2 separate regions of the Homo sapiens genome follow, and region 2 is linked to region 1. Evidence: fine-mapped expression QTL. A gene starts in region 1. The other region holds a variant in brackets. All regions are shown on one strand. Distances are from middle to middle.

Region 1 (2,914 bases):
TCCGCAACACAGAGCGAAAAGGGCATGGCCCCGGGAACCCCGGCGGGTAAGGGGTCCTTGCCGTGCTCAGGATTACTGCGGAAACGCCGTGCGCTCGCTGCGCTCTAGCAGGAGCAGGAGGAGATCGCCTTTTAGAGTCTGAAATCCAGAAAGAGGAAGAAGGCTCCTTCCTTGGAGACCCTGTTGCTGCAAGCTCTGCCGCCACCAGCAAGGCAGCCCCTGATGGCGCCCCTAATCCGCTGCCTGATGTTGGCTCTGGGATAGCGCCCCCAACACCGCCCCTCGCCGCTGCAATGTAAAACCCAATAGCGCCCCCAACCCATCCCTGCCTCGGACGTCGCAGCACCAGATAACTCCCCCATCCTACCGTCTGCCGTCGGCCATGCAGCCACCGATAGGACCTCCAACTAACCCCCGGCTGCGGGCAGTGATGCCCCGGAGAGCACGGCCACCTGCTCCATGCCGTCAATAGTGCAGCCATGGATCCTTAAGGTCCCCAACCCCCTCCCCACGACGAGCAGTGCAGCCCTACATAGCAGATAGCACCCCCAACTGTCCCCCACCCAGGGGGAATGATGCCCTGGATAGTGCACCCCACCCGCACCCCGCCATGGGCAGTGCAGCCTCCGACAGCACCCCTAACCTGTATACCGCTGCCAAAAATATGGTCCCCGATAGCACACCAACCCAGCCCCCACCACAAACAGTGCAGCAGCTGATAGAGCACCTAACTCGCCCCACCGCCACTGACCACAGTGCAGCCCCCGAACGGTGCCCACAACCCACCCCACCACCCCGCCTGCCACCGGCCGGGTATCACCCCCAAACCGCCCCTTGCTGTGAGGAGTGTATCCCCTAGTAGCGCACCCAAACCTGCCCTCTATCATGGGCAGTCTGGCCCGATAGCGCCCGAAACCGCACCCTCCAAGCACCTACCCGCACCCACCGCTGCCCCGCCCCACCACCAGCAGTGTAGCACCTGATACTGCCTCTAACCTCTCCCCTGCCATGGACATTGCAACCCCACATAGCGCCCCCAACAAGCCCCCACCATGGGCAGTGCAGCCCCAGATAGCATCCCCACCCCGCTGTCGGCAATGAAGCCCGACCAGTAAGCACCCCCACCAGTCCGCACCCTAACCAGCCCTCCCACCACCATGCCGCCGGCAGTGCAACCACAATAGCAGCCCCAACCCGGCCCCTGTCGCGGGCAGTGCAGCACCCAATAGCGCCCCCAACCAGCCCTACTGCTGCCATCAATACAGCCCAAGATAGTGACCCCAACCCGCCCCCCACCAACCCCCCCCCCACCCGCTGCTGAGGGCAGTGCAGCCCCGGATAGCACACCTAAAAGCAGTGACGCCCAAAATAACACTCTAGTACACCCAAAGTAGTGACACCTGGAATAATACCCCAACCAGCCCCCGCCGCGGGCAGCCCTGGATAGCTTACCTACCCCATTGCCTTTCTACACTCTGGCCAGCTGCAGTATCCGTCGCTGCCACCAACCACAGCGAGGCCAGCCAGGGAGGCGAGCCAGCGAGGCCAGCCGCAGTCCTGCAGGCTCTAGCCTCCAGCCTATGGTAGGTGCTTTCTCCTTCTTTCCTTCCTGTAGCCAAGCACGGAGCAGCTGTCACTGCCAGCTGCCTCTCTCCATTGCCACCACACACCATTCAAGGCTCCAGGGCTCCAGGTTCCAGGCTCCAGCCTGCGGCAGCACAATCTGCTGCCGCTTTCTCCAAACTCTGCGGCAGAAGTACAGGTTAACACACGATAGCCTGCAACAGCGCGACGCCCCCTTAGCATACCTTATATACTGGGGGGTTGTGCAGGCCTGGTTCTCGGACTTCACGTTCTGATTGGATGAGAGAAACATCTACGCCTACTCTGATTGGACGTTATTTTCATGTTCTGATTGGATCAGAACAAGTCTTAGGCTAACCAATCAGAACGTGACAATAAAGTCCAATCAGAGTAGGCCTAGTGTTTTCCTCTCATCCAATCAGAACATGTAGTTTATAATCTCGGTATATAAAGCATGTTAAGAGCTAGAGTTGCACTATTCCAGCCTCGTCGGCATCTGACTTCATAGCTGCTCCATTGCCAGCTTGGAGTAGGAGGTGCCAGCCACTGCATGCTGGAGGCTGCAGCCTACCGGGCTGTGGCTGGCCTCCCTGGCTCACCACCTCGCCGGCTTGCCTCGCCTTGCCTCGCTGGCTTGCCTTGCCCGCTGCGGTTGGTGGCAGCGATGGACACTGCAACCGGCCAGAGTGTAGAAAAGCGTCGGGGTAAGTGCGCTATCCAGGGCTGCACTGCCCTTGGCCTGGGACGGGTTGGGGGCCCTATCTCAGGCGTCACTGCCCACCTTGGGTGGCTGGTTAGGTGTGCTATCTGGGGCTGTGCTGCCTGCACCCGGGGGTGGTTTGGGGGCCCTAACCGGGGCTGCACTGCCCCCGGCGGGGAGCCTGTTGGGGAAACTATCCCAGACTGTATTGCTGGCAACAGTGAGGTGGGCTAAGTGTCCTATCCAGGGCTGCACTGCACGGCTGTTGCGGGGGGGTGGTGGTTTCAGGTTGAGGGTGCTATGGGGTGCTGCAATGCCCGTGGTTCGGGGAGGCGGGGCGGTTTGGGTGTGTTGGGTGCGCTATTGCGGGGGGGCTACACTGCTGGTTGCAAGGGGGCAGGGTGGGTTGGGGGCCATATCAGGGGCTGCACTGATTGCTTTAGCTAGGGTTTCCAGTACTATGTTAAATAACAGTGGTGACAGTGGGCATCCTTATCATGTTCCAGATCTTAGAGGAAAAGCTTTCCATTTTTCCCCATTCCATATGATTCTAGCTGTGGGGGTCTCTCATGTGGTTTTTATTGTGTTGCAGTATGTTTCTTCTGTACCCGTTTTTTGAGGATTTGTAGC
Region 2 (2,914 bases), 62 kb before region 1:
ACGCCATCTCAAATAAAATAAAATAAAATAATATAATATAATATAATATGTAAAAAATGATCAATAAATGAAATTACTATCAGTTGAAACTCATTAAATTTAAAGACGTTTTCTACTCAAGTAACTATAAGAACATGAATGTCAAGTTTCAGATGGGAAACTATTTTCAAATCACATAACCACCAATTTAATTAGAATAAGAACTCTCAAGACTCAACTGTGAAAAAGAAATAAGAAAGAAACAACCCATGGATAAAATAGGCAAAGGTTTGTGCAGACATTTCATCAAATGAGATGTGCAGATGACACATAAGCATATAAACAGGCTGTTAACAGGATTTTCCATTAAAGGAATTCAAATCAAGCCCACAATGAGACACCACTATACACTTTTTAGAATGGCTGAAATTAAGAAGAAATACAGGTAATACCAATGCTGATGAGCATACCAAGTTCCTAGTGTCTACGACATTGTTAATGGGAATGCAAAATGAAACAGCTACTCGGGAAAATAATTTTTAGTTTTTTCTGCAATCAAACATGCCCTTAACACATGACCTAAATATCCCACTCTTGAATTTTGCTTCAGAGAAATACAATCTTATTTTCACACAAAACCTCTATTCAAATATTCAAGATATTACATGTGTGTGTGTTAGAAATGAAAAATAACATAAATGTCTCAAAATTTGAGTAGGTGAAAAAACTAGGAAGCATCTATAAATTGAATCCATCAGCAATAAAAAATATCAAATGATCGATTCACAAACCATTACAGTTGAACTCCAGGCATTATGCTAAGTGAGAGAAACCAGTCTCAAAGATCAAAGGAACACATCTGTAAGCAGCACTGTCAACCCCAGGTGTCAGTGGTTTGGGCTGGGCTCTCTCTGTCTCTCTCCTGACCAGACCCAGATGTTGAGCTCTGCCACTTGCAGATGGAAAATTGTACTATTTTCAATCATGCACTGAGGTTTGAATTACTTCACAGACTGAACCAAACAAACATGGGCTCCATTGAAGAGTGTCTGGCATTTATTTCAACCACAAGAGAACTTTCCCCAGCTCTCCCTTGTCCTCGGTTCTCTCCTGCAAGCCAGCAGCCCTGCAGTGTAGCCTGCATCTCCCATGCATCCACCCGTCTCCTTCCAAGGGCTTTCCACCACACCATCCACTGTTTTTGAGAGCACTGGCAGGCTTTCAATTTGTCCACA[A/T]TCTGCTGTTACTGAAGTTAGGATTTTTAGGACTAATTAAGGATCATATTTTATGACTGAATTCCATTGCCCCCTCTCTCCTGGGACAGAGCTCCTAAACAAGGTTCTGCAGGTGTAGACAAAGTTGAGCTGTTTTATTCCTCAGCCTAGGAGCTGAGCTCTCAGTGGAGGGTCGGGCAGGAGCTTCCCACCTTCTCAGCACTTCGGTTATTGTGGGGTGGAACCTCTGCCATAGGACAGAGCTAGAAACCAGAGACCCAGTGTTCCCAGTGGCACTGGACCCGGGACAGAGCCTCCATCCATGAGTGGGGCTCCATGGAAGAAGTGAATCTCTGGCTCTCAGTAGCTCTTGTTCAGCACTGAACCTCAGCATCATGTGCTGTGTGCAGGGTCAGAGGGCCAACGTACTGGGTCCTGGGGAAGAGTTTCCTCTGGTGGGAGTTGGTAGAAGGTGACCTGTCTTCTTGGCTGCATCTGTCCGCAGTGGAGTTTACATCATGCTGAGCTGGGATGTGGAAGGAAGGAAGAGCATCTTAGATCAAGTATGATGACTGGCCTTACTGAGTTTTCTAGATTTTCTTGAATAAATATTTCTTCACTTGCTTTATGTTGTTAGAGCCTTTCCAAACCCTGTAATTTTTCAAAATAATTTTCACTGGTCTCATGAGGGCCTGGATTCACTGAAACCCTCATGCTGTCAAAGAGAAATAGAATTTTTTTTCACTTTTTAGAGAACACCCATGCGTTATAAAATAATGGGTTGACTTTTCATCCAACACTTTACAGATACCATCAACTTTCCTCTTGCTTGTAAGGTTTTAACCAGAAGAATGCTGTCATCATCTTTTCTGTTCTTTTGGAAGGAATGCCCCCTCTGCTCACCTCCACTTGCCTGCGTATATTTCTATTTGTCTTTCCTTTTCAGCAGTTTTAATAAGATTTACCTAAATGTGTGTGGGGGGGATCAGTGGGTGTAATTCTGCTGTTCTCTGTTCTCTGAGATGCATGGATTCACGGTTTACTCTGTCTCCATTTTGGGGAACACAATTAGAAAAAATGTCAGTATGAGCCCAGAAACAAGCCTCCCTGAAGAGGGAACAGGACCAGCTGGGGGCACTCAGGACCCACTGAGCACAAAAGCCAGCCTCAGGGCAGGTGCAGAGGGAGGCTAAGGTCTGGTTTCCTGTCAGCCCTGTGGCTTCCTCTCCATGAAACAGTTTCCTCTGGGGCACTTCTCTGGATTCCTTATCCTGTTCTTCCTGAAGAAGAAACATTTGTGGTGACAAGAGAAAAATTTTCTCACATGCACCAAAGGCAGAGTCACCTACAATCACTCCTGTTTCTCAATGTGAATAAATTATCAATGCTTCTGAATTCAATCAGCTAAATCTATAAAAGGTGTGGTGTTTAACTCAACACTGCAGCCCAGCTCAACAGAACTCCAAGGGTCAGTGAGCAGCAGGCAGGATAAAGTGCATGCTGGGCACTGGGGCAGAGGGAGTTAGCATCCAGTGCAAAAGAAGAAAGGCCCCGTGGTGGTCACTGTCAGGACTCCAAACCCATAGTTCCAATTGTAGGTGACCCCATGCAAAAGAAGAGAGAGCCCACCAATTGTTAGTGTGGATGTCAGGTCTGATAGTGCCACACTCACACCTCAGGTGGTTATGAAAAGATTTACCAACTCTATTATTGTCTGCTGA

Alleles and levels. Positions count from the first base shown, and alleles are read on the strand shown. Sizes are in standard deviations (SD) of each study's normalised expression.
With allele A in place of T in region 2, the expression in testis of the gene that starts at base 1,785 in region 1 is higher (moderate effect, 0.45 SD a copy in GTEx).

What was found.
Region 2: its variant is fine-mapped to the expression of LINC01193 in testis (GTEx, PIP above 0.99).

Annotation. Positions count from the first base shown.
Region 1 is chr15:20,939,309-20,942,222 of GRCh38, reverse strand. LINC01193 (long intergenic non-protein coding RNA 1193) reads right to left here and starts at 1,785. Exons shown (of 5, transcript NR_040094.1): 1 at 1,457-1,785. MIR5701-1 (microRNA 5701-1) reads right to left here and starts at 1,971; the gene lies at 1,890-1,971.
Region 2 is chr15:21,001,616-21,004,529 of GRCh38, reverse strand. It overlaps FAM30C (family with sequence similarity 30 member C), which reads right to left and starts at 1,253. Exons shown (of 4, transcript NR_145444.1): 1 at 771-1,253. The variant A/T (reference allele first, on the strand shown) is at 1,215.